Homo sapiens: one gene and its partners. The protein of the gene in region 4 purifies or fractionates together with the protein of the main gene of each other region. This does not show direct contact. Each region holds a gene or a part of one and is shown on either strand. Other genes may lie near its edges.

Region 1 (7,032 bases), on a different chromosome or scaffold from region 4:
TGGTCCTGAATCACGGCCGAAAGGCACCTTTCTACCCCATCCTGTGTTATGTCTGGACCTTCTGCTGGATGGAGTTTGGGGCAGGGTGCCCTCTGCGCAGCCCTCCCCTGAATATCCCCATTCTCTGCCTTTACATGCCTGGAGGGTGGAGGGGAGAGATTTTTTTTTTTTTTTAATTTTTCCCTGAGACAGAGTCTTGCTCTGTCGCCCAGGCTAGGGTGCAGTGGTGTGATCTCAGCTCACTGCAACCTCCGCCTCCTGGGTTCAAGCAATTTTCCAGTCTCAGCCTCCCAAGTAACTGGGATTACAGGCGCGCACCACCACACCCAGCTAATTTTTGTATTTTTAGTAAGAGACGGGGTGTCACCATGTTGGCCAGGCTGATCTCGAACTCCTGACCTCAGTTGATCCGCCCGCCTTGGCCTCCAAAAGTGCTGGGATTACAGGCGTGAGCCACCGCACCTGGCCGGAGGTGGGGAGATACCTTGCAGCTCATAGTGACCCTGGGCTTTTGTCCTTCTGGGGTAGACTAGAGGATAAATAGCTGGAATTCAGGCAGCAAGGCCCTCTTCTCTGCTTTTGGCAGCCATGTTGCAAACTTATTAGCCGGAGGTCTGGAGGTCCTGCTAACCTTAGAACCCCAAGCCCCACCCATCCCACCCTGGCCCACACAGCCACAGGGTATTTGCAGAAATCTGTAGATCTGGACATGGGGATTCACAGATAAACCTGTTTAGTGTTGGTCTTTTTTCTTTGAGGGCTGAGACCTTCCCTCTCTCTCTCCCTTTTTGGGTATAAGCTAGTTCTGAGGGTATAAGGATTTTTTTTTAGTGAGGGGTGTGGAAGCTATGCCTGGAGGTAATTATGAGAATGGGTGGGACTTGAGGGAGGAGAGAGGTTCGGGTTGGTGGGCTGGGGACTCCCGCTGACAGCCCTCTGTTCCCCCAGGGTTTCTGTTCCTGGCTGACAGCCATCTTCAGGATAAAGTAAGTGGACCATCTTCAAGCTCTAAAGAAAGAGAGAAACTTCAGAACCTGGCATCTCCCTACAAAATTCAGAAGCCAGCAGCTTTCAGGGCCTTAGCACTCCTCGCCAGCACAGCACCCTCCTCCCTGCTCTCAAAGGCCAAGCCTCGGGTGCCTGAGCCTCTGCTGTACCCTGAACACTCACTTGACCCCATAATCTCCTCTGTGACCCCCTGCCGGCCCCCCCGCTTCTCTCCCTGCCCTGCCCCACCTTGAGGGAGGGGGTGGAGCCCCTGCCTCAACCTCTGTGCAGCCAGTGAGTGGGGGCAGCAGTAGGCTGGGAGCAGCCAGCCAGCTGCAGGCAGAACTCAGGAGATCCAGCCAGAGTCCAGCAGGCAGGCAGTGAGCGCTGAGAAAGGCAGGAAGCCAGGACAGGTCAGCACTGCCGCCACCACTCCCCCAGGCCTCCCCCAAGGGTACCCGGGCTTCACTACGCCAGGCTCAGCCACACCCATGAGGTGCTGCTGCCCCTCCTCCCATCCTTCCTTCACTTCTGCCTCTTTCACCACTCCTCCTCCTGCTGGTCCTCCTCCTCTCTTGCCTTCCTCCCTCCTCAGATATTTCTCTTTTTTCTTCCCTTTTCTCTGCATTCCTCATTTTTCTTCTTCCCCTTCCTGTCTCTGCAGTCTCTTCTTTCTTTTACCTATCTTTTCCTTCTAGCCCTCTGCCTTCATCCCTCCCCTTCTCCATGCATTTCTCCTTTTTCTCCCTCCCCCTCTCTTCTCCCTTTCTCCCCTCTCCCTTCACAGAAAATAGGGGACCAAGAAGTCCCATTTCAGCCCTATACTACTGCCAGATCAGCTGGAGCTAGGGTGGGTTTGGGGTGGGAGTGGGTGAGGGCAGGCAAGTTGCAGCCCCCTTCTTGCCCTGGTCCTAACCTAATTCCTTTGTCCAACCCGTATGGCTGCAGGGATGATGAGATCCGGGACAAATGTGGGGGCGATGCCGTGCACTACCTGTCCTTTCAGCGGCACATCATCGGGCTGCTGGTGGTTGTGGGCGTCCTCTCCGTAGGCATCGTGCTGCCTGTCAACTTCTCAGGGGACCTGCTGGGTCAGTGAGGGCCAGGACGGCTAGGGTGGAGAGAGGATGGGGCTGGAGGGGATGTGCCCTGACCCCACCATCATCCTCTCCCTCTTCCCACCCCACAGAGAACAATGCCTACAGCTTTGGGAGAACCACCATTGCCAACTTGAAATCAGGGTAAGATGCGAAGCTGGTCGGCCAGGCCAAGGTCTACGACCAGAGTCTGGGCCATGATGTGGGACAGGGAGGAAAGGCAGCTGCGTTGATGGGAGCAGAGCCTACAGGGATGGCTATGGGTCCCTGAGGGCTTGGGTTGGAGACAGAAGAGGGAAATGCCTGCTGAGGATCCCCCAAGGATGAAGAGGATACAGAAGAGGAGGGTGAAATCTCAGGAACCAGGGAGGGCCAGCTGGGGCAGTTGGAGACACTGTAACCAGTGGGTAGGGCGTAGAAAGGTGACCTATCAGGGATATTTTCATTGGAATCGAAGAATTTTGGTGTCTAGGGGATGTGGGATGTGGGCCTGCCTTGCGAGGAGTCAGTGCCAGAAGGCTGGTGGCAGTAGAGGGCCCTGTCTGTATCAAGGGTTTAACACTGACAGGCTGAGGTGTCTCCTCTGAGTGTGTCCTAGCCCCAGTGGCTCCCATGTATCCTCTCTGCTTCTCCCAGGAACAACCTGCTATGGCTGCACACCTCCTTCGCCTTCCTGTATCTGCTGCTCACCGTCTACAGCATGCGTAGACACACCTCCAAGATGCGCTACAAGGAGGATGATCTGGTGCGTGGAGCAGAGCCCAGGTCCTGCCCCATCCCCAGCCTCTTCCCTTCCCTTCCCTGCAGGCCTCTTTTGTCTCAGCCCCAAGAGGTGTCAGCTAGGTTTGAATGCTGGCACAGCAGCTCAGGAGCTCCCATCCTGCAAGTTACATAACCTCCCAAGCCATGATTTTCTCATCTGTAAAATGGAATAACAACAGTACCTCCCCCAAGGTTGTGGGGAATACACAGAAACAGCCGTGCTGTGCCCAGCACTTGGGAAAATAGCAGTGGCTGATCCTAGGATAGTAATATTCCTTCCCCTTCTACATGCACTCACCAAGCCAGAACCGGACACCTACTCCATGCCAGCCACTGTGCTGGGTTCTCAGGGTCTAAGGAGCTGAAAGTAGTACCCCCTTCTGCCTCTATAACCCCTCAAGAGCATGGGACGGCGTGGCTCTTTTGTTAGGCTCACTGCCTGATTTCTGTTGGAAACACTCCCCTGCTTTCCCTGGGACCTGGCTTATCCATAACTAAGGCCTCCTCCCACCCCATCTGTTCCCCTCTGCTCACCTACTTCTCTACCCACTCAAAACAAAGCCTCTTTCTCTAGTGCCCCCCACCCCTCACATCCCCTGGCTCCACTGGGGTCAAGCCTCAGAAGGCAAACCCACTCCCCTGTCACCCAGGTGAAGCGGACCCTCTTCATCAATGGAATCTCCAAATATGCAGAGTCAGAAAAGATCAAGAAGCATTTTGAGTGAGTAAGCCACGCTTCCCCCTACCCTCAAGCCCTGCTGCAGAGCCTTCTCTGCCTTTGAACTCTAAGAACATCCTTATACCCTAGCCTGGAGCTCTGCCGTGGGTGGGATAGAGATTAGATCCAGGAAGAAATGTCCGATTCCAGGGTGGTTTAGCACTTGGGTCGGGTGATAGGCCCCTTTAAGAACAGGAAAAATAAGACAAAAACCTGAAGAGTGAGTCATTCAAACCCCCTAACCCCCAAACCTCCTCCTGGCTCAGACTGGGTCATAGGTTGTTGACCCAGGTCCATTGGAGTACATATCTTCTTCAAAATTAAAAGCAGCATTCTGGAGTTTGTGTGCAGCCATGACAGGGAGAAGCTCCTTGGTTTCCAGTGGATTCCAAGGAGTCCAGGAGAACTTGAACTGTGTATTCTCTGAGGCTTTTTCAGCTCTAGAATTATGTTTTGGGGTGGGTAGAGCAGACCTATGGCCAGAAACTAGAGAAAAGGGAGGTGGTATAATGAGGCAAAGAGGGAACTTACCTGGTCACCCCATGGCTAGGGATGCACCTTGGGGCGCAGCTCATAGGGTGGGGAATCAGTGAAGGGCCCCTCCATGGGGGTGTGTAGGGACAGTCTCTATACCACAGGATTAGGGCTACTCTCACACAGGCATCTGTTCACTCAGCAAACTTTCTCAAGTGCTGTTAGTCATAAGTTACTGTGGTGGGCTTTGGGACTGTAAAAAATGAATGAGGCCAGGCATGGTGGCTCATGGCTGTAATCCCAGCACTTTGGGAGGCCAAAGTGGGCAGATCACTTGAGCCCAGGAGTTGAAGACCAGCCTGGGCAACATAGCAAGACCCCATCTCTACCAAAAAATACAAACTTAGCCAGGTGTGGTGGCGTGCGCCTGTAGTCCCAGCTACTTGGGAGGCTGAGGTGGGAGGATCGCTTGAACCCAGGAGGTCGAGGCTGCAGTGAGTCCTGTGCACCACTGCACTCCAGCCTGGGTGACAGAGCAAGACCCTGTTTCAAATGTTTCAAAAAATAAAAAATAGAAGAGGCCAGGCACGGTGGCTCACGCCTGTAATCCCAACACTTTGGGAGGCCCAAGATGGGAGAATTACTTGAGGCCAGGAGTTCAAGACCAGCCTGGTCAGTATAATGAGACCCCATGTCTTAAAAAAAAAAAAAAAAAAAATCATTGAGGGCCGGGAGTTTGAGACCAGCCTGGCCAATATGGTGAAACCCCGTCTCTACTGGTGAAACCTTGTCTCTACTGAAAATACAAAAATTAGCCAGGCATGGTGGCGCGTACCAGTAGTCTCAGCTACTCAGGAGGCTGAGGCAGAAGAATCGCTTGAACCCAGGAGGCAGAGGTTGCAGTGAGCCGAGATTGTGCCACTGCACTTCAGCCTGAGCGGCAGAGCGAGACTGTCTCAAAAAAAGAAAAAAAAATCATTGAGTTCTCAGGGGGTTCATAGTATGGCAGTCGGCTTTAGGAGCTAGTCCAGGGTCTGATCAGAGATTGCTCTGAGGTCAGTCTGTGGTCAGAATCAGGAGCTGGCCAGTGGTCATGATAAAGGATGCTGGTGGTCTGGATCATGGCCCAGACTGAGGTTGAGATTTGGGCTCAGTCTACCATCAGAATCAGGGTTTAGGCCAGGTGTGGTGGCTCATGCCTGTAATCCCCTTGAGAAGATTGCTTGAGCCCGGGAGTTTAAGACCAGCCTGGACAACATGTCGAAACTCCATCTCTACAAAAAATATAAAAATTAGCCAGACATGGTAGCATGCACCAATAGTCCCAACTACTCAGGTGACTGAGGTGGGAGGATGGCTTGAGCCCAAGAGGCTAATGCTGTGGTGAACTGATTGCGCCACTGTACTCCAGCCTGGGTAATAGGGCAAGACCCTGTCTCAAAAAAGAAAGAAAGTAAAGAATCAAGGTTTAATCTGAGGTCCAGACCTGTCAGTTGGCCAGAATCAGAGTTCACTCATTGTCCTGGGTCAGGCCAGTGTGTGATCCAATCAGAGATAGTGTTTGGGCAGGATTGAGAGTGAACATCTATCTGGTCAGGGTCAGATTCCAGAGCCTGTGTTAGAAGATTAAGGACTGGTGTGTGATCAGCATTAGTAGATGGATACTCTTTCATACTACATGCAGTTATTGACAACCTTCTATGTGCCAGGCACAAATAAATTAGAAACAAGCCCAGCCCTTATACAGGCTATAAAACAGCAGTCAAAATTAGATCATTCTTGTCAGTATGAGAGAACTATTTGGGGTCCTATCTGAGGTTCAAGCTGTCATCAGCATTAAAGGGCACTCTGGGTCAGGATTAAGGACAGTGTGTACTCAGAATTAGTGACATCTTTTTTTTTTCTCATACCATCTTTTGTAACAATGAATTAGGTGACATCTTAATATTACCATCCAGTTGGAATCAGTTGTCAGCTTGTATTGAAATCTGGTGTTTGTTGTTTTTGTTTTTGTTTTTGTTTTTTGATACAAATATCTAGTGAGCACCTGCTATGTGCCTGCTTGGGGAGGAGCTGGGGGTATAGCAGTAAACGACAGAAGGCCTGCCCTCATTTGCTTTCATTTTAGTGGGGAGGGGTGGACAGGGACCGGATGAACTAGTAATAGAGACTGTGTCAAGAAGAGGTAGGTGCTAAGAAAACCACAGCAGGGAAGCAGGCAGGGTAAGAGGGGTTGGGAAGGGTTGCTATTTCTGATGGGATAGACAGGGAGGGACTCTGACAGCGTGGCATTTGAACAGAGACCTGAGTGAACCCTACTAGTCAACTGTCTATTCATTCAGCCCACATTTATTGTATACCTACTATGTGCTTCATGCCTGGGAGACAGAGTATAATCAGACCTGATCAGTGCCCTTGGGAAGCTGAAGATCCTAGTTGTGTTTCAGGGGTTGGTCTATAGTTTTGTTTAGGAGAGGTCAGCCTATAAGCAGGGGTAAGGGAGACTCTAGTCCTAATTGGAGTTTTTTGGATCACTGGGATGAGCATTATGGAGTAGCCATTTCATTGATCCGCTCATTTACCACATGTGTATTGAACACCTGCTATATACAAGCTGTTGGGACAGGGCTGGGTATATGGTGAGGACTAAGAGACAGCGCTTGAGCTCATTGTCAGGATTAGGCAGGGCTTGTGGTCCAAGTCTGCAGTCTGTCTGGATTGGAAGACTGTCTCAGCACAATTAGGAAATATCTTGCATGCAAATCAACGGGCCTGTGTGGTTGGATTTAGAGGATTAGAGATGAGTTTAGTGAGAATGAGAGCTCACCCTTCCAAAGGGGAAACCTCAAATGGTTTGAGGAACAATATCAGAGGAAAGGTCTCTAGCCTCCTGGGAAGTACATCTCAAGGACCCTATCCCAGATTTAAGTTTCTAAATTCTCATGGGTTTATGAGGACTATCTTAATACTTTAGAACAGTAACTCATGCATTCA
Region 2 (7,592 bases), on a different chromosome or scaffold from region 4:
CCCGGGTTCAAGCGATTCTCCTGCCTCAGCCTCCCGAGTAGCCAGGATTATAGGCGCCTGCCACCATACCCCAATAATTTTTATATTTTTAGTAGAGACGGGGTTTCGCCACGTTAGCCAGGCTGGTTTCAAACTCCAGACCTCAGGTGATCCACCAGCCTCGGACTCCCAAAGTGCTAGGATTACAGGGGTGAACCACTGTGCTCGGCCTTCTTGGGAGATCTCTTCCAATCTTGTGGCTTTAAATATTCTATACAGTCTCAAATGTAACTATCTATCTCCAACACCTTCCCTGAATTCCAGGCTGCTTACTTGACATCTACACTCAGATATCTGTCTAGGACATCTCTCGAAGTTAACATTCAAAACCAAATGCCATGCCATAGTTTTTGTTGTTCTTGTTTTTGTTGTTGTTCTTGTTGTTGTTGTTGAGACGGGAGTTTCACTCTTGTTGCCCAGGCTGGAGTGCAATAGTGCGATCTTGGCTCACCGCACCCTCCACCTCCGGGTTCAAGTGATTCTCCTGCCTCGGCCCCCTCAGTAGCTGGGATTACAGACATGCACCGCCACAGCCAGCTAATTTCGTATTTTTAGTAGAGATGGGGTTTCTCCACGTTGGTCAGGCTGGTCTCGATCTCCCAACCTCAGGTGATCCGCACACCTTGGCTTCCCAAAGTGCTGGGATTACAGGTTTGAGCCACAGTTTTCAATTAAAAACTTCTCCTTTCTGGCCAGGCATGGTGGCTCACGCCTGTAATCCCAGCACTTTGGGAGGCCAATGCGGGTGGATCACAAGGTCAGGAGATCGAGACCATCCTGGCTAACACGGTGAAACCCCATCTCTGCTAAAAATACAAAAAATTAGCTGGGCGTGGTGTCAGGCGCCTGTAGTCCCAGCTACTTGGGAGGCTGAGGCAGGAGAATGGCGTGAACCCGGGAGGCGGAGCTTGCAGTGAGCAGAGATCACACCACTGCACTCCAGTCTGGGCGACAGAGCGAGACTTCGTCACAAAAAACAAAACAAACAAAAAAAAAACTGCTCCTTTCCAAAATTCCCTATCTCAGTAAATAGCACCAGCAAGGCCCTGCTGTTCGGGATACACATTTTGGAGCAACATCTATGCCTCTCTTTCTCTTATATCCCATCTGCAAATGTTGTCAACTCAGCCTTCAATATATGGTACCAAGCCCAACTCATCTTCCCCTCTCCACCATCCCCACCTTAGCCCAAACCATCATCACCATCTCTCTGCTTCCAATTGCCTCTCTGTAGTCTCTTTCCCACACAGCAAGAGTGACCCATTTAAACATAAATCAGATTGTTACCTCTGCTCATTACCTCTCTGCTCGAAGTCCTCCAATGGTTCCCACCCTTCTCAGAAAAATCTTTGCCACGAATTACGAGGCTGTACGTCTGGACAGGTTCCAGAGTTTTCCTTAGACTTTGCAAAAGTTATCTTAGAGCTGTCTCATTGTGCTGGGTGCAAATTTTGTTTTAAAGAGAAAGTTATCACATATTTTCTCAAAGAAGCATCTCTGAAGGCATGTAATATGTTTGAAATACTTATCTCATCATTAAAGCTTTAGTAAAATGAAAAATCTACCAGCCATGTTCTCTATACTCAGCGATTTTCCAGACTTCAACGCCCTGGAAGCAATGATTAAAGTTTTTCTTTGCCTTCAATTATCTGAAGGGTTGGGCTGCCCCTCCACACCTGTGGGCATTTCTCATCAGGTAGAATGAGAGACTTGGAAAAGAAAGAGACACACAGACAAAGTATAGAGAAAGAAAAATGGGCCCGGGGGACTGGCGCTCAGCATACAGAGGACCCGCGCCGGCACCGGCCTCTGAGTTCCCCTAGTATTTATTGATCATTATCAGGTGTTTCCTGGAGAGGGGGATGTGGCAGGACAATAGGATGATAGTGGAGAGAAGGTCAGCAGGTAAACACGTGAACAAATGTCTCTGCATCATAAACAAGGTAAAGAAAAAAGTGCTGTGCTTTTGATGTGCATATACATAAACATCTCAATGCCTTAAAGAGCAGTATTGCTGCCAGCATGTCCCACCTCCAGCCCTACGGCGGTTTTCCCCTATCTCAGTAGATGGAATATACAATCGGGCTTTACACTGAGACATTCCATTGCCCAGGGACAAGCAGGAGACAGATGCCTTACTCTTATCTCAAATGCAAAGAGGCGTTCCTTCCTCTTTCACTAATCCTCCTCAGCACAGACCCTTTACGGGTGTCGGGCTGGGGGACGGTCAGGTCTTTCCCCTCCCACGAGGCCATATTTCAGACTATCACATGGGGAGAAACCTTGGACAATACCTGGCTTTCCCAGGCAGAGGTCCCTGCGACCTTCTGCAGTGTTTTGTGTCTCTGGGTACTTGAGATTAGGGAGTGGTGATGACTCTTAACAAGCATGCTGCCTTCGAGCATTTGTTTAACAAAGCACATCCTGCACAGCCCTTAATCATTTAACTCTGAGGTGACATAGCACATGTTTCAGGGAGCACAGGGTTGGGGGTAGGGTTACAGATTAACAGCATCTCAAGGCAGAAGAATTGTTCTTAGTACAGAACAAAATGGAGTCTCTTATGTCTACTTCTTTCTACACAGACACAGTAACAATCTGATCTCTCTTTCTTTTCCCCACATTATCAAGTCAAACATCCTCTCTTCTGTGAAGGCTTCTCTTTGTGCACTGCCCTCCTACTCCATCCCCAGTCCCAGTACCCTGCAGAATAAAATGTTTCTATCTCTGTCTCCTTAGCTTTGTGTCCATACATAGATATTGAAAGGAAGTCTGTGGAACTTGTGTCTGCCTTGTATTACTACTGTGGAAGGGACAATAAATTTATTAACTCATATTTTTAAAATATGCATACATACTGTATTTAACCTAAGACTTTTTTCATATTTTAAAGACTGGAATTGAGATATGTCTTTCAATCTACATGTTTAGAAAGCATAACTTATCAGTTTTTTTTTCTTTCTTGGTGGTACATAAAATAATGGTACCTTAAAATTGATGCTATCTTACATTTTATTAAATATGGAATAGAAATCTTATGTGTCTGTGCTCCTCATTCTTTATAGCAAAAGTTTAATACATGACATCATTCCATATGACAGTTGATTATTTTTGCCACTACTGGGGCTCAAACCATAATACCCCAAAATATGATGTTTTGGCATGCTGAGTCTTTGGGGTTTGTTTGTTTTGAGATGGGAGTCTCACTCTGTCGTACAGGCTGGAATGCAGTACAGGCTGGAATGCAATGGCATGATCTGGGCTCGCTGCAACCTCCACCTCCTGGATTCCAGCAATTCTTATGCCTCAGCCTTACAAGTAGCTGGGATTACAGGCACCTGCAACCACACCCGGCTAATTTTTGTATTTTTAGTAGAGACGGGTTTTGCCATGTTGGCCAGGCTGGTCCTGAACTCCTAACCTCAAGTGGTCCACAACATTGGCCTCCCAAAGTGCTTGGCTCCCAAAGTGCTGGATTACAGGCATGAGGCACCACGCCCGGTGGCATGTTGAGTCTTTGAATTAAAGGAAATTAAAAGGGTCTCAGAAAGAAGCCTAAAAATCAAGGCCTCTCTCTCTCACCTTCCCCCTTCCTTTTGTCTCTCTGATACTCTTACTTTTTCCAAGCACCTGAAGGGGCTCTCTTTTCCTGCACAGCCAGATAAGGAATTTCCTTATCTGACAGAGAAAACTCTTTTCCAAAGAAATGCAATTGTCTTAAAACCCGTTCCTTAGGAATCGCATTAAATAATCAGAAGAGATTAATCACCCAGAGAAGAGACAAAAACTGAAAGTCATAGCCACACTGAGACTTTTCATAGATACTTCTGAGGGTAGCTCCAAGAGATTACCTGGGAAACTTTACCTGTATAATAGGACAATTTTTGTTCAGAGTGAAGTTTCACAGCTTGTCCACAAGCGATTGTTTGTACTTCTGTCCCACTGAATGTCCAAGGAGAATCATTTGCAAACCACTGTCTGGCTTTCGGGCCCATTCATACCTATCTCCCTCTACTCAACAAAGAAGGGTATACAAGCATCTGGACCTTAATTGAGTTATTGAGTAATCACTCTTCTGTGATTTTTCCCTATGCACGTTAAGCAAATTTTGTATGCCTTTTTCTCCTGCTAATCTGTCTACTTAGTTCATTCCAGCAACTTTCAGAGGGCAAAAGTAGGAGCTTTCCCTCTTGCTCCCTACACCACGTTAAATTTAAATATAAATTAAATGATGTGGGAATGGGTAACCTGCTCATTTCCAAACTGCAATTTTCATAGGTATGAAAATTCTCCACAAACTACAAAACCATGACACTCCAAGCGCCCAAGAACCTAGGTTGGACAGCTCACTTAGTGCAGGTAAACGTGCTCCACCCATCTCCCAGCCCGCCTGCCCCCTCACTTAGGTACAGGTGCAGGTACAGGTAGGCAAGCAAACGTCTATTGGCTGTGGACTTAACAGGCTCGCCCACAGGTACCTTCCGAGCATGCGTGGGGAAGTAGCACGCAGGCGCGGCACGCCCCGCGCATGCCTGGTGCACAGAGTCTGCAGGTCGGGCGGTAGCGACAGGTCAGAGCTGCGGCCTGAGCAGCCAGCGTCCGGCATGAAGGTCTGGGGTCTGGCTGCTGCCTGCTTCTTGCTCCAGCACCATGGAATGCCTGCGCAGTTTACCCTGCCTCCTGCCCCGCGCGATGAGACTTCCCCGGCGGACGCTGTGTGCCCTGGCCTTGGACGTGACCTCTGTGGGTCCTCCCGTTGCTGCCTGCGGCCGCCGAGCCAACCTGATTGGAAGGAGCCGAGCGGCGCAGCTTTGCGGGCCCGACCGGCTCCGCGTGGCAGGTACTGCCCTTCCCCGGCAACAGCCTTGGGACGCTGGTCTTGCAGTGACCTTAGACTGCTGCCCCAGCCGTCCGGCGCGGCGCGCCTGTTGCTCCGCGCCCTCCGCAGGCCTCGGCCTCCCGCGTGTCCTGTGAGCTTGCACAGGCCCGCGGGCCGAGCTGCGTCCCACTCGCTCAGAATGCGACCTTGCTATGTGCGCTGTGCCCTGCCGGGGTCCCAGCGGCCAACCCTCTGCCTTCTCCTCCACCGCCCTTGCTGCAGATTATGTAACCATAGGAACAACCTAGGAATCGTTTACAGACCGTGATCACGTTAGTTAACACCCGCTTAAGTGCTCTTGTAAGAGGTTTTTTCTGTGTTGTTTTTGAGACAGGGTCTTACTATGTTGCCCAGGCTGGACTCAAACTCCTTGCCTCGAGCCATCCTAACGCATTAGCCTCGCAAAGCGCTGGGATTACAGGCGTGAGCCACCACACCTGGCCGAGAGGTGTTTTTAAACAAGGATTTCATCTGTTCGGAAGTCATAAGTATAAATTAATACTTCCCTGTTTTCTGTTTCTTCGTTATGGACACATTTATACAGTTGTCCAGTTGCACGGAGATTGGGGACGCACCTAGAAGTGAGGCTAAAGACTGAGTTGTTTCTGAGAACGACTTACTTTCAACTACAGTACTCTATAAGTAAACAGCCAGGGAGATCGGATTGAGAAAAAAAAATCTTATTTGCTGTTTATTTTTTCACCAAATGTTGAAGCATGGTGAAAAGTTAAGATTTTCACAAATGTGAGTGCAAATATTTGAGGAATAAAAGGTATTGAAATGAATGACTTTATTAAGAACATAGCAGTGTCCTCAAATATGTTTTCTCAATTGTGCTCTCAAAAGCCTCCCAAAGTAACTCCTCGTCAGCACCTCATTCTCCACTTATTGGAGAGGCTAAGTTGGGTTACATGCTCTGCACCCTCAATTGATAATGCTTGGGAATCCAGTTTCAGCAAGTTGGAGGAAACTTTTAGGACAAGCATTGACGTTCACAATCTCAATCCCGGTTACACTCTAATTTGTGACATTAAAACATTGAAAGGCATTTGTAATCAGCAAATGCCTTTTACCTTTATTCATCTTACCCTTATAGTGATAATTTGTATTTTGTAAAAGGGAAATGAAACTTCAGATACTAACAAATTACAACAATCATTACGTGTATGTAGTAGAAAAAAGATCAGAAATAGGTTTTTTTTTCTACAGTCTCTGGAATCAGTGTAATTACTTTGGAAGCACAAAACAGTGTCCTCTGTCAGTCATTAAATGTACTTGATTATACTTCACCGCTCACTTCGACTCAGTCTAATCACGTTTTAAATAGACAATTTTAAAATAAAGATTTGTCATTTCAGCTCAGTGGGGGTATTTCATAAGTATTCACTATAAAGGATATCTGTAGAAAAGAAGTAAAATCATAGGTTTCATAATTTATGAGCCAGTCAACTGGAATGCTTGAAAGATCAGGTGGTACTTAGGACCTATGTTTTCTAAAATGTATCTACTACCAAATGTGCATGAAGAGTCTTTTAAATTATGCGAAAAGGAAGACCAGACATTTTCTTAAATCTCAGAACACGATGTTGCACATTTGTTCATCCAACTCTGAGATATCAGTAATAATTAGAAAGGTAAAAGGGTGATTGGAATCCATCAGTTATTTTAATGCCTCACCTAAGCCATTAGTTTTAAAAATCATTCCCTGCCAAACCTAAGATAGTCACTAACAGATGTTAAAATTAAGAAGAGTATTTCTTCTTTTCTTATAGGAAAAATATTTAAAAATAATAAAATAGTCTGAAGGCCTCCACATACTTTGAGAGTTGTATTTTAGCTCTATGTGAAAACCAATCATGTGACCACAGGAATTCTCTTAATTTATTCTTCAGGTGAAGTGCACCGGTTTAGAACCTCTGACGTCTCTCAAGCCACTTTAGCCAGTGTAGCCCCAGTATTTACTGTGGTGAGTATGTACAGTACATTGGAAATCGTACAGAAAGTGCTTCCCATACATAAGTTAACTCGTTGGACTGTTGGCCAAGATACTACTTATTTTGAGCTTTATAATCATCATAGCTACATGTCGTGGCTGTTGTGCCTGGCCAGTGACCTAAGTGCCTGCTAGATTTGCTTAACAATGATCTTGAACCTTTGCTAATGACTGCAGCTCCCCTTTTAATACTAGAACAGGTCAATCACAATTCAGAGCCATAAAGAGGCTTGAACCTATGTTCTGCAAGATAATACGCAGGCAGAAGCATTTTGAAGGCAGCAGAGAGTAGTATTTAAAAATGCATGCTTTGAAAGGTCATGATCTCTAACTTTTCTCTGAAATGGTTCGGGGGTGGGGATGAGGGGGGAAATGAATGAATAAGATAATGTATCACACGTATTTTTAGAGAAAGAAGGCTGTTGGGGCAAAATGTTAACAAAGGTGACTCTAGGTGAAAGCTCTATGGGAATTGGTTGTAATATTCTTGCAACTTCTTTGTAGGCTTTTTTTTTTTTTCCAAAAAAAAAAAAAGTCTTGATAAAAAGGTGTGCCGGCCGGGCGTGGTGGCTCACGCCTGTAATTCCAACACTTTGGGAGGCCGAGGTGGGCAGATCATGAGGTCAGGAGATTGAGACCATCCTGGCTAACACAGTGAAACCCCATCTCTACTAAAAATAC
Region 3 (7,000 bases), on a different chromosome or scaffold from region 4:
GTTAGGATTTCAACCCAGGATTGCCTGACTCCAGAGTCTGGTCTTAACCATTTATCATACTCTGCCACTATGCCACACTGATCATTTTATGTCCTTTTTACAGGTTTGCCAATAGGATTATCCTGCTGCCATCATGTCTTGGTTTGTTGATCTTGCTGGAAAGGCAGAAGATCTTTTAAACCGAGTTGATCAAGGGGCTGCAACAGCTCTCAGTAGGAAAGACAATGCCAGCAACATATATAGCAAAAATACTGACTATACTGAACTTCACCAGCAAAATACAGATTTGATATATCAGACTGGACCTAAATCTACGTATATTTCATCAGCAGCTGATAACATTCGAAATCAAAAAGCCACCATCTTAGCTGGCACTGCAAATGTGAAAGTAGGATCTCGGACACCAGTAGAGGCCTCTCATCCTGTTGAAAATGCATCTGTTCCTAGGCCTTCATCCCATTTTGTGCGAAGAAAAAAGTCAGAACCTGATGATGAGCTGCTGTTTGATTTTCTTAATAGTTCACAGAAGGAGCCTACCGGGAGGGTGGAAATCAGAAAGGAAAAAGGCAAGACACCTGTCTTTCAGAGCTCTCAGACATCAAGTGTCAGTTCTGTGAACCCCAGTGTAACCACCATCAAAACCATTGAAGAAAATTCTTTTGGGAGCCAAACCCACGGTAGTTAATCAGTCCTCTTATTTCTTTTAGAGTTAAGCAAATTGAATGTGTCATCATATGATCCGATGGTGTTTCTCATCTACTGTTATGGAATCTGTCTCCACTGGTGTAAGGGCAGACTCTCTGCAAATGTGTGGTGTAAACAAGGGAGACATCATTGACTACTATTAGTCAATAGACAGTTGTAGCAGGGACTTCATGTTGTCTGGAGGGCAACTTCACCCACTCAGCATCTAACAAAGTATTTCAAATTTGTTTCTCTAAGACATTTTAAGATTAAAAAAAGAAAATTTTGAAATCTGAAAGAAAACATGTCAGTTTGGATCGGGGACTATCCCAGTTGATATCTTTTTGTTACTAGGATTATAAAAATGACAGGAGGCTGTACTTCACGTATTTTCTGGGTTGTGTTTTTTGTGTGTTTTTCCCCCCACATCCTCCACAAATAAAGCTGAGAGACTGAACTTTGATCCAAGTTGAAGAGTTGAAGGCATTGACCTAGTAGTGAAGCAAGAGCTTAGAACTCTTGTTTTCAATTGTTTAATTCCCTCTGAGATTACCTCTACAAGTACACCTTCTTTCTTGTGAAATGAGATTAACGTGGTAAATGTGGCTAATTCAAGTACCTACTAACTGTTTTAAAATAGCTATAGGCTGGGCGTGGTGGCTTACACCTGTAATCCGAGCACTTTGGAACGCTGAGGCAGGCAGAGCACTCGTGCCCAGGAGTTTGAGACCAGCCTAAACAACATAGCAAAACTTTGTCTCTACAAAAAATACAAAAATTAGCCAGGCACAGTGGTGCATGCCTGTAGTCTCAGCTACTTGGGAGGCTGAGGCGGGAGAATTGATTGAGCTCAGGAGGTCGAGGTTGCAGTGAGCCGAGATTGTACCACTACACTCCAGCCTGGGCCGTAGAATGAGACGCTGTCTCCAAAGATAAAAATAGAAAAAAGGCAAAAAACTTGATAGTAGGTTCTTGCAGGGATTCTTTTGTTGTTTTGAGACAGGGTCTTGCTCTATCGCCGAGGCTTAAGTGCCGTGATGCTATCACAGCTCGCACTACCTTTGACCTCCCCAGGCTCAAGCGATCCTCCTGCCTCAGCCTCCTGAGTAGCTGGAACTATAGGTGCACACCACTGTGCCCAGCTAATTTTAAAAAATTATTTTTAATAGAAACAGTGTCTCACTGTGTTGCTCTGGCTGGTCTTGAGCTCAAGTGATCCTCCTACTTTGACCTCCCACAGCATTGGGATTATGGGCATGATCTACCGTGGCCTGGCCATAGGGATTTTTTTTTTTTTTTCTTTTTTGAGACGGAGTCTCACTCTGTCACCCAGGCTGGAGTGCAGTGGCCTGATCTTGGCTCACTGCAAGCTCCACCTCCTGGGTTCATGCCATTCTCCTGCCTCAGCCTCCCAAGTAGCTGGGACTACAGGCGCCTGCCATCACGCCTGGCTAATTTTTTTTTTTTTTTTGTATTTTTAGTAGAGACAGGGTTTCACTGTTAGCCAGGAGGCTCTTGATCTCCTGACCTTGTGATCCGCCCGCCTCGGCCTCCCAAAGTGCTGGGATTACAGGCGTGAGCCACTGTGCCTGGCCTTTTTTAATGTTTTTATTTATTTATTTATTTATTTTTTTGTGAGACGGAGTCTCGCTTTGTCGCCCAGGCTGGAGTGCAGTGACGCGATCTTAGCTCACTGCAACCTCCACCTCCTGGGTTCAAGCGATTCTCCATTTCAGCCTCCCGAGTAGCTGGGACTATAGGTGTGCACCACCACCCTTGGCTAATTTTTGTATTTTTTGGTAGAGATAGGGTTTCATCACGTTGGCCAGGCTGGTCTTGAACTCCGGACCTCAAGTCATCTGCCCACCTTGGCCTCCCAAAGTGCTGAGATTACAGGCGTGAGCCACCACACCTGGCCAGGGATTCTTTATAGAGTTGATTATTGATGGGAGATTGTCATGTTCTTGGATGTTATAGCTTCTTTCATTGTCTTGGCTGTTAGTGAATAAAATCTTTCTTGTATTTTCAAGACAAAAACTTGTATAGAAGAAGACGTTTTGGGTTGTGAAAATAGGATCAGGCAGTAGCAGTTGATTAATATGTTCACATATTCCAAAATTTCTTCTCAGCTATCTTTCAATTAATTACACAAAGAACCTACTAGGTGCAAGGATATGGAAGTGTCCAGTGGGTGAGCTAGACATGTAAACAGATAATTTACTTGTGGTCTAGTAAATGTAGCAATTAAGTATGGTCAGAGTGTTGTGGAAGTATGAAGGAGGAAGTAACTAATTGCCTAGGGTATTCAGAAAGGATTCACAGAGGGTCTGTATTTTTAGCTGGGTCTTAAAGAATGAACAGGAGTTTGCCAGGTAAAAAGTTAGAGACAGCATTCCATGCAGAGAGAACAGACTCTAAGAGGCTAGTAGAGTAGAAAACATTGTAACAAAGTTGGAAACACTGAGTGAGTTGGAGGGTGATGAAGAAAATGTAGCTAGCAAACAAAGTTGGGACCTGTTTGTGAAGGCCCTTGTGTCATACTGTTTATGCAATTAAACCCATTACTTCTATAATCATTGTTAAAGATTGATTCCTGAACAACAGGCTTTAGAATCGCTTGTGTGTTGTTAATTTAAAAATGAATTATTGAGTGCCTTCCCAGGCTTCCTGAATCGTTATTTTCTGGGGATGGAGCCAGGGCATCTGATTTTGTTGTTGTTGTTCTGTGGGTGGTTCTTAGCCAATAAAAGTTGAAAGTGGCTGCCATAGCCAGTGTGATGCTAGTAGAGATCTTTAAGTCAAGAGTTGACATAGCTTATTTTTGTACTTTTAAAGAAAGCAGCTTGCATTTAATTAGAAAGAATGGACCTAAAGGGAACCTCGTTGTCAGGGAAATGAATTAGAACTGGTTATAATACACAGGAGTTATAAAAATTGTTTCTCTTGGGTAGGACCTCTCAACCTTGAGACTTGGTGTTTTGGGCCAAATTAATTCAATAGTGTGGGAAGCCCTCCTGTTCTTTGTAGGATGTTTAGCAGCATCTCTGGCCTCTTAGCCCATTAGGTGGTAGTAGCACCCCCAATTGTGACAACCAACAATGTCTCCACAAATTGCCAAATGTCCCTTGCAGGGCAAAATCATCCCAGTTGAGAACCAATGTCCTGAGATGCCTAGAAATGTGTAGAAATGGGATTGCTGAGCTGTAGGGTTTAACAATGTTCAGCTACACTAGTAATGCCAAAGTGGCTTTCTGCAGAGGTTGTGCCAATTTATACTCTAACCAGCTATGGTTAAGAACTTCTTTTGCTCCACATTTTCACCAACATTTTTTATTTTCAATTTGACTTTTTACTTTTTGCTGATCAGATTTGTCGTTGATATTATTTCCTTCATTACTAGTGTGGTTGAAGATCTTTTCAGATATTTGACTATTGAACTTTCATTTTCTGGAAGTGTCAAGTCTTTTTTATCAACTTTTTTCTGTTAGATTATTTGTCTTTTTTCTTCTTGATTCATAGACATTCTTTATATATTCTAAATTCTAAATTCTTTTCCTCCTCCAGTTTTACCTTGGTTTTTCCCCTCCCCTCTGTCTATGGCATCTCAATGAATAGAAGTTCTTAATGTAGATGGCATGTGGCTTGTGTTTTTTGTGTCTTGGAAAATCTTTCCTTACACTGAGATCATAAAGATATTTTTCTGTATTGTCTTCTATAGTGTGCGATAGGCATTCAATTCCCTTTTTCTTTTTTTTTTTTTTGCCATAGGGAAATCAGCTATTCTAGCATCATTTATTGAACAGAGTCTCTTGTCCCTACCAATTTGCAGTACCACCTGTCTTATATATCAAGTATTCATTAGTGTGTTTCTGGCCACTTAATTCTGTTTTATTGGTTTATTTGTGTATCCTTGTGCCAGTGCCACCCTGTTTTAATTAATGTAGTTTTATGTGTCTTGATAACTGATAGGGTAGCTTCTTCCACCTTGTGGTCTTTCTTCAGAAATGTTTTGGCTGTTCATGGACCTTTCCACTCCTGTATGCATTTTAGGATTTGCTCATCAAGTTTCACAGAAACTCTGTTGGTCTTTTTATTGGGAATTAATTGCTTCTATATAGACAGTTTGGTGAGAGTCAGCACTTTTGCTATACTGAGTTTTCTTATCCACCAATGGGATATAATTTCAACATATTTTGTAGTGTCTTTCATTAAAATTTTATTGTTTTCTCCATAAAGATCTTATATACTTTATGTTAGATTTATTCCTAAGTAGTTTATATTTTTTGAAACAATTATATGTGGTATTCCTTAAAATGTTTTGCTTTGTTATTGCTGGTGTATTTTTTGTTGTTTTTTTGTGTGTACATACATAGCAATCTAGATGGCTCTTAATCTTCATGTTTTTCTGGACATAAATTTAGATTTTCAACAACACAATTATCTGTGTATAATGACAGTTTGTTTCTTCTTAGCCCTTTTATCTTTTAAAAAATCCTTTTCTTCATTGGCTAGGACTCAACGACCAGTTTTGTATCTTGTTCTTTGTCTTAGAGGGAATACTTTGTTTCACTAAGTATGATTTTACATTAGGTTTTTTATAGTTTTTTTATTTGTTTAAGGAAGTTCCCATAAATGTCTAGTTTGAGGTTTTATCATGTTGAATTTTAGCAATGTTTTTTCCTCTACCCTTGGAGATAATATAGTTTTTCTTCTTTAATATTAATATAGTATACAAATCAATTTATTTATTTTTAATAAATCAATTTATTTATTTATTTTTAATAGAGATGGGATCTTGCTGTGTTACCCAGGCTGGAATGTAGCGGCTATTCACATGTATGATCATAGTGCACTGCAGCCCCAAACTCCTGGCTCAAGTAATCCTCCCACTTCCTCCTCCCAACTCACTGGGATGCAGGTGCACACCACTGCACCTAGCTCCAGCTCCAGTTGATACTTTTAAATATAAAACCAAACTTAACTTTCAGTTTGCTAATATTCCCTTTAGGATTTTTGCATTTATTTAGTTAATTTAATTTTTATTTATTATTATTTTTATTATTTTGAGACAGGATCTCACTCTGTCGCCCAGGTTGGAGTGCAGTGGTGGGATCTCAGCTCACTGCAGCCTCAATCTCCCAGGCTCAAGCAATCCTCCCACCTCAGCCTCAATAGTAACTGAGACTGCAGGCACACACCGCCATGCGTAGGTAATTTTGTTCATTTTTTGTAGAGACAAGGTCTCACTATATTGCCAGGCTAGTCTTGAACTCCTGAGCTGAAGGGATCCTCCTGTGTTGGCCTCCCAAGTGCTAGGATTACAGGCATGAGCCACCACACCTAACCTTTTGCATTTATTTTATAAGCGAAATCGGCCTGCGATATTGTTAGGTTTTAGTATTACAGTTATATTAGCCTTATCAAATGAATTGGAAAGTATTCCTTCTTTTTCTGTTGTGTTAATTAATTGGTGTAAGACTGAGATTATTTATTTCCTGAACGTTTGCTAGAACTCTGTGCTAAAACCATCAGGACCTGGGGTATTCTTACTGAAAGGTTTTAACTATTGATTCAGTTGGCTTTTCATTTCTTCTTGAATCTGTTTTTGGTAAGTTACGTTTTTTTCCCCAAGAATTTGTCAATGTCATACACATTTTGAGGGGTTATACTTATTTAATTTCAGGAAAATAATGTAGGGGTCACAGCTGAAACTTTCAACGCAACCAAACATTAGTTATTCATACCAACCCTGCAAAAACCAATGCTTGATCATGCATACTGTGTGAAGAATATCAGTATCTGGCATATATTGAATCCTTACCCTGTTTCTGGCACTGCACTAAATGCCTGCTTTTTAAAACAGCTTTAATGAAGTATAATTCACATGCAATAAACTGCACGATAAGTATTGTGCAATTGATAGATTTCAGTATCTTGTACATTTTAAAATTTGATGGCCTAATGTTGTTTATATCTGTCCCAGGGAACCACTTTTGGTTATGCTGATCCTCTCTAGTATGTTTATTTCCTCTTTTGTTAATTTTTGCTTTCTTTGGGTTTGTTCTGCTGTTTTTATAGTTTTTAAGATGGATATACAACTCATTAGTTTTCTTCCTTCCTGCCTTTCATCTTTAATGTAACCAAGGCTATAAATTTCCTTCAGAATACTGCCTTAGATATCATCCCACATTTGGATATATACTTAATTTATTTTTTGAATTTTAATATTTTATTTTTTATATTATTTAAAAATTTTTTGTAGAGACGAGTTCTCACTGTATTGCCCGGGCTGGTCTCCAACTCCTGGACTCAGGCA
Region 4 (7,032 bases):
TTGGGGGAGGGAGCAAAGCTTTAGAGGAGCAAAACTTTGTCTATGATTGAAATGGAGTTGGTATTAACCTGAACTAGACTGTTCAGGTTATTATCTTAAATTAACACTCAGAGCAACGAGGCAGAAAGTCAACAAGAATGAAGGCTTGAACAACACTATGAACCAACTAGACCGAACACATCTATAGAAAATCCACCCAGCAACAGCAGGTTACACATTCTGCCCAAGCAAACATGGAACAGTCTTGAGGAAGAACCTTATGTTAAACCACAAAACAAGTCTCAATACATTTTAAGAGTGAAATCATGCAAACAATGTTCTCCAAATACAGTGGAATGAAACTAGAAATCAGTAACAAAAGAAAATTTGACTCACAAATGTGTAAAAAGTAAACACTCCTAATTATCAGTTCGTCAAAGAAGAAAGCAAAAGAGAAATCAGAGAATGAATTAAGATAAAATGAAAACACAACATACCAAAATGTATGGGATGAAGAGAAAGCAGTTACTTAAAGATTTATTAGAAGAATGATCTTAAATGAATAACCTAACTTTCTACAATAAAAAGCTAGAGGCCGGGCACGGTGGCTCACACCTGTAATCCCAGCACTTTGGGAGGCCGAGGCAGGTGGATCACGAGGTCAGGAGATTGAAACCATCCTGACTAACATGGTGAAACCCCGTCTCTACTAAAAATACAAAAAATTAGCCAGGCATGATGGCGGGCGCCTATAGTCCCAGCTACTCACTGCACTCCAGCCTGGGTGCAGAACGAGACTCCGTCTCAAAAAAAATAAAAAAATAAAATTAGAAAAAGAATAACACACTAAGCCCAATCCAAGCACAGGGAAGGAAACAGTAAAGATTAAAGTGAAGACAAATGAAATAGAAAATGGGGGAGAGGGGAGCAGAAAACTGAATAAAACCAAAAGTTGTTTCTTTGAAAGATCAACAAATATGACACAATCCTGTGGCTAGACCAAGGAAAAAGAGACAGAAACCAAATTACTAAAGTCAGATATGAAAGAAGGGGACACTACTACTGACCTGTATGCCATCACATTAGATGAAAATGGACAAATTCCTAGTAACACACAACTACCAAAAAAACCCACTCAGGAAATAAGAGAATCTCAACAGATTGGTAACAAGAGACTGAATCAGTAATCAAAAATCTTCTAACAAAGAAAATCCCAGGACCAAATGCCTTCACTAGTGAATTCTACCAAACATTTCAAGAAGAATCAATACCAATACTGAAACTCCTTCAAAAAACTGGAGAGTGAAAAGAAAATAATTCCTAACTCATTCCATGAAGCCAGTTATTACACTAGTACCAAAGCCAGACACCACTAGAAAACTACACACCAACATCCCTTATGATTCAAAAACCCTCAACAAAAAACTAGCAAACTGAATTCAGCAGCATATAAAAGTATTATACACCATGAGCAACTGGGATTTATCCCAGAAATGCAAGGTTGGTCCAACATGCGAAAATCATGTAATATACCATATTCATAGAAAGAGGAAGACACCTTGCTTTGAAGTGATAAAAATGTCAGCAACTAGATAGAAGTGGTGATTGTACAACCTTGTGAAGAGACTAAAACTGAATTATATATTTAAAAGAGTGAATCTGGTGAACACGGGCCGGGCGCAGTGGCTCACACCAGCACTTTGGGAGGCCAAGGCAGGTGGACTGCATGAGTCCAGGAGGTGGAGGCTGCAGTGAGTATGATTGCATCACTGCACTCCAGCCTGACAGGGTGACAGAGACCCTGTCTCTAAATTTAAAAAATAAAAAAGTTGAACATGAATCACTTTGTGAAATAAAATGTCAACTAAAAATATCCATATTTTCTTTTACTCTTCTGAAAACTGTGTGTGTCCATGCCTCAGCCCAGATCCCCAGCGTGCAGCTAGAGTAGCCCACAGCTGGGCATTGGCTCTCACCTTGAGGTGCTGGTGCATGCAGTATCGACAGACCTTATGCTTCATCTCATGCGTGACATCACTCGAGAAAGGAATAAACCCACATTTTGGCTGTAAAATAAACAAATAAGGAGGAAAAATATTTAGGAAGAAATCACATACCTCTAAATAGACATATCACTGACTACAAGATAATGAGTGCAGCAAGATAATTAGGCATAAATGGCCCCAGAAGCTGTTTTCATTTGCACCTCCCAGCGGGAACAACACTTCCTGCATCAGATCACACAAACATCTCCGCTAGAGGACCCACGGCCGGAACTCTCACTGGGGAGGGTCAGTGGTGCCTCTGCACTAGCTCAACACAAGCACAACACACAATAGCTTCATGCTTTCATTCAAGAATGTGACTGCAAGCCTCTAGTAGTAGAGATGGACCCAGGACTCCCAGCTCCAAGAATCGGAACCATTGTTCCCACTGACACTAGCACATGGCCCGACAGAGGCCCATCTGATAGTTGCTAGGCTCCCAGAAGGTCAAGGAAGCCCCAGTGCCCTCTAAAAGCTGCAGCCTCTGAGCATACACCACACGCAGGCCTGTGCTGAGCCTCGGGCACTGGAGATGGTGGCTGGGGAAGCAGAACATCCACCCACAAGTGAGGAGGATCAGGAGGCATGAGCTCAGGCCAGGAGTGTGACCCAGAAATTGCTGCCTTAGAGTTGGAGGAGGGGAACAAAGGCCAGGGCATGTGAGGCAGCTTCCTGAGGGACCCTGACAGCCACCCCCGACATGGGAAGCAGAGAGCTGAAGCAAGGGGGGCCCTGGCCCATCCAGCCCCCACTGCCTGGCACCAGAGAAATTCAGGACTCCTGGCCATGACACACCAGTGCCTCTGAGGGTCACACTGGCCTTTGTGCCTCCAGGAAAATTCGTCCTGAGCAGGACAAAGAGAGCTCCCCAGTCTACAGGGCAACCTGCAGATGGGGCTCCTGCAGCACAGCAAACAGCAGCCAAGCACCAAGCAGGCATGGCCAGCAGGGAGGGGCACAGAGGAAGAACCCAGAGGACCCTGGCAAGCTGTGCCCTCTGAGGAAAACGGGTCAGGGGGACCCAACGCGCTTCCCTCTGGTGACCCTCAACCAGGGCTTGTTTTAGCCCAGGCATGCAGGGTGGGTGGGGTCTTCTATCATGAGCTACCAGGAATGAGCCTAAACCTGGGATCTGGGAGCCATGGCAGGAACCAGAACGCAGGTGGGGGCTGTGGAAGGACAGAAACAAGTGGAGTTTCCAGGAGCCAAGGGTGCCTACCACTCACTTCAGTGGGAACTGGAACCCAAGGCACGTGACTCTTGGACTTACTACCCAAGACTGACCTTTCCCCTTTACCCACACCATCTGCCCCTCGACAGGTCACCTTAATCTCTACACACAGAATCGGCCGGTGCTCTGCAAAGCGGTAGGTTTGGAGTCTGGTTAAATTAGGAAGGCACATAGCGTAACCACTGAGAGTATCCAGGTCCTTGTCACAGCGAGACTCTGGAAAACAGAGCAAGGGTCACACAGAGCAAGGTCAGTGAGAGAGATGAGATGATCCCTGCCCAAAACAGGCCCCGCCTTGTCCCTGGTTCCAGGGGGCATCTCTGTACCTGATGAAAACCTCATGTCTCCCTGGGGATTGTGGGACACACACAGTAACAACGTGGTTTAGGCCAGGTGAGGTGGCTCACACCTGTTATCCCAGCACTTTGGGAGGCCAAGGCAGGTGGATCATGAGGTCAGGAGTTCGAGACTAGCCTGGCCAACATAGTGAAACCCCGTCTCTACTAAAAATACAAAAATTAGCCAGGCATGGTGGCACGTGCCTACAGTCCCAGCTACTCGGGAGGCTGAAGCAGGAGAATTGCTTGAACCCTAGAGACGGAGGTTGTGGTGAGCCGAGATCGTGCTACTGCACTCCAGCCTGGGCAACAGAGCAAGACTCTGTCTCAAAAAAAAAAAAAAAAAGGCGGGCACGGTGGCTCACACCTGTAATCCCAGCACTTTGGGAGGCCTAAGTGGGCAGATCATGAGGTCAAGAGATCAAGACCATCTTGGCCAACATGGTGAAACCCCATCTCTACTAAAAATACAAAAAATTAGCTGGGCGTGGTGGCATGCACCTGTAATCCCAGCTACTCGGGAGGCGTAGGCAGGAGAATTGCTTGAACCAGAGAGGCAGAGGAGGTTGCAGTGAGCCCAGATTGTGCGCCACTGCACTACCGCCTGGCGAAGGAGCAAGACTCCATCTCAAAAAAAAAAACAAAAACAAAAACAAAAAATAACTTGGTTTATGTAGGGGGTAGCTTCACGCCTTATGGTATCGGCTCAAACTCTGGAGAGGCTGGAGACTGCAGTCAGCCACACCGATGGTCAGCCATGTCGATGTGCCTGAGCCCCAGTGAAAACTCTGGACAACAATGCCTGGTGAGCTTCCTGGTGGGCACACTCCATATGGGAGAGTGAATACTGCCCACACCACCCCTGAGGAGAGGACCCAGAAGCTCATGCCAGGTCTCTCCTGGACCCCACCCCTGCACCTCTCCCCTTGGCTGGTCCCATCTTTATCCTTTTCCTGCAATAAAACATAACCATAAGTAAAACAGTGAGTTATGTTGGTCCTTCTAGCGTATTATCAATCCTGAGGGTGGTCTTGGGGATGGTCCCCTAATTCCACAACACCCTTAGCCCAGGAACTTGAAGAGGAGGGGGCTGCAGGCTCTACCTTCTCTCACATCTAGGCCCTTCCCAGTCCCCAGTGCACCAATATTTCCCCAGCACCAGATCTGCTGGAACCCGTGGTGTGGACAGAACCAAACAAGCCTGGGCTCCAGGCACCCCAGGGACAGGCTTTCCTCCTTTAACATAATGAGCCTTACTCCAAGTCTGGTTTTTATCACTGTGGTGTGATAAACCTCCCACGGTTGTTATGAAATGGCAGGCTGAGCAGCAGAGCAGTTGCAGACAGCACCCTGGAGCCGGGCTCAGACTGCATTCACCGAGAGGAAGAACTGGAGCCTAGCCACTGTCCTGTGGCGTTCCCGCCTCCCCAGCCTTTCCTGCAGTGTGAAGCCCATTCCTCCCTGCCCCAGCCAGAGACTGCAGACCCAGAGAATGGTTTGCTTTCATTTTCCAAATCAAATCAGGAAAAAATTTTATACTGGCTAATTCCACACCCTCATTGCCTGGCTGTGCTCCGGGCAGAGGCATTTCCACCCTCAACTCACGAAATTTATCTCTTTGATCACTGACTGAAAAAAAAGGTTTGACCTGATTCCTGTCATAAGGCCACCAGCAAGTGCAGAAAAGGGAGTGGGTGGGGATGGAGGAGAAAGGGAGAGGCGAAGGGATGGGAGGGGATTGGGGAAGGACAACATGAGGATGGGGAAGGTGATGCCACAGAAGGCCCTTGGATTCCCTGTTCCTCAGAAGGACACAGACCTAGCCTAGACTCCGGTTGGGGACAGCTCCCTGGGCTGCAGACCCTCCTGGGCCAGGCCCTCCCTCCTGAAGCTCAGGTCACCTCAGTTTCCTTTTGCCTCTCCCAGGCCTCTGGGAACCCTTCCCGTTCCTAAGTCTGCCCCAGACCCTCCACCTCCAGCTCCTCCCTCATGTTGTTTTCTGTGGTATTAATTTGTTCTTTTTTGTTCGTTTGTTTGAGACGGAGTCTCACTCTGTCACCTGGGGTTGGAGTACAGTGGCGTGATCTCAGCTAACTGAAATCTCTGCCTCCCGGGTTCCAGCGATTCTCCTGCCTCAACTTCCCAAGTAGCTGGGATTACAGGTGCCCGCCACTACGCCCAGCTAATTTTTGTACATATATATATTTTGTTTGTTTGTTTGTTTTAGTAGAGAAGGTGTTTCACCATGTTGGTCACGCTGGTCTCGAACTCCTGACCTCAGGTGACCTGCCTGCCTCAGCTTCCCAAAGTGCTGGGATTACAGGCGAGAGCCACCGCACCTGCCTTTACTGGTTCTTCATCACATATTCTGTGCAGTGCTGTGGTTTTCTGATACAGAGAATTGTATCCATGAGCTCCCAGGATTTCTATCCCTGATAATGAAGTTTCTGGCAAAAGAATTACTGAAAACTGGCTGGGCACGGTGGCTCACGCCTATAATCCCAGCACTTTGGGAGGCCGAGGTGGGTGGATCACGAGGTCAGGAGATCAAGACCATCCTGGCTAACACGGTGAAACCCCATCTCTATTAAAAATACAAAAAAGTAGCCGAGCATGGTGGTAGGCGCCTGTAGTCCCAGCTACTCGGGAGGCTGAGGCAGAAGAATGGTGTGAACCCGGGAGGTGGAGCTTGCAGTGAGCCGAGATCGCACCACTGCACTCCTGCCTGGGCGACAGAGTGAGACTCCGTCTCAAAAAAAAAAAAAAAAAAAGGATTACTGAAAAATGCATATACCTAACATGGGTAATCATTTCAAACACTTTTCAAATGGAATATTTTAAATTACAAACAATATCTGTAAGTTAAACACCCTTACCTGGTCTTTCAGATTGTATCTTTAAACAAAGCTGTTTCACAAACTCTAAAGGTAGCTGAACGACCTCCTGTAAGAAAATACATGAAATTCTCAGTGTGAATTGCACAATGACATGAACACAATGCCACAGAACTGCATGCCTAAAAACAGTTGAGCTGTTGGTTTTTATGTTATGTGTAATTTATAATATTTTTTAAAGTTTATTGCTTAAAAAAAAATCAGTGTGTGGATTTTGGGAATAAAAGCTGCTCTATTATTTTCAGGACATGTCCAGGTTAAATAGAGACACCAACATTTCACTGCAATCAGGGTGGCCAGCTCTCAGAATGGCTGGGCCCACGGTGGTGACCAGCCTCAAAGCCAGCTTCTCTCGCCACAAAGCACCCCTTCCGAGCCCCCTTCTGGTCTCTACAGCATTTATGGACCCAGAGCAGTTCTTAGACCACATGGAAGACCCTTACTGACCACTCAGACAACCTGAGAACCTCACGCTTCCACCTGAGGAGCAGGTCAGCATCTGAAGAATCACTTGTCTCAGGAAGATGGCCTGTGCCTCCTCAGCC

The links.
Region 1: the proteins of IPPK (region 4) and TMEM63B purify together in Homo sapiens (affinity purification with mass spectrometry; 2 studies listed by BioGRID and IntAct, with this or other methods). This does not show direct contact.
Region 2: the proteins of IPPK (region 4) and MRS2 purify together in Homo sapiens (affinity purification with mass spectrometry; 2 studies listed by BioGRID and IntAct, with this or other methods). This does not show direct contact.
Region 3: the proteins of IPPK (region 4) and GOLGA5 purify together in Homo sapiens (affinity purification with mass spectrometry; 2 studies listed by BioGRID and IntAct, with this or other methods). This does not show direct contact.

Annotation. Positions count from the first base shown.
Region 1 is NC_000006.12:44,137,532-44,144,563, forward strand, and holds part of TMEM63B (mechanosensitive cation channel TMEM63B), read left to right. Parts: intron 1-948; coding exon 949-986; intron 987-1,935; coding exon 1,936-2,078; intron 2,079-2,176; coding exon 2,177-2,228; intron 2,229-2,720; coding exon 2,721-2,829; intron 2,830-3,496; coding exon 3,497-3,567; intron 3,568-7,032. UniProt on the Homo sapiens protein: Mechanosensitive cation channel with low conductance and high activation threshold. Osmosensitive cation channel preferentially activated by hypotonic stress.
Region 2 is NC_000006.12:24,398,358-24,405,949, forward strand, and holds the start of MRS2 (magnesium transporter MRS2 homolog, mitochondrial isoform b precursor), read left to right. Parts: upstream 1-4,578; 5' UTR 4,579-4,689; coding exon 4,690-4,879; intron 4,880-6,810; coding exon 6,811-6,884; intron 6,885-7,592. UniProt on the Homo sapiens protein: Magnesium transporter that mediates the influx of magnesium into the mitochondrial matrix and regulates magnesium metabolism. Also permeable to calcium, sodium and potassium ions.
Region 3 is NC_000014.9:92,797,305-92,804,304, forward strand, and holds part of GOLGA5 (golgin subfamily A member 5), read left to right. Parts: intron 1-103; 5' UTR 104-133; coding exon 134-677; intron 678-7,000. UniProt on the Homo sapiens protein: Involved in maintaining Golgi structure. Stimulates the formation of Golgi stacks and ribbons. Involved in intra-Golgi retrograde transport.
Region 4 is NC_000009.12:92,646,104-92,653,135, forward strand, and holds part of IPPK (inositol-pentakisphosphate 2-kinase), read right to left. Parts: intron 6,537-7,032; coding exon 6,470-6,536; intron 3,472-6,469; coding exon 3,350-3,471; intron 2,046-3,349; coding exon 1,956-2,045; intron 1-1,955. UniProt on the Homo sapiens protein: Phosphorylates Ins(1,3,4,5,6)P5 at position 2 to form Ins(1,2,3,4,5,6)P6 (InsP6 or phytate). InsP6 is involved in many processes such as mRNA export, non-homologous end-joining, endocytosis, ion channel regulation.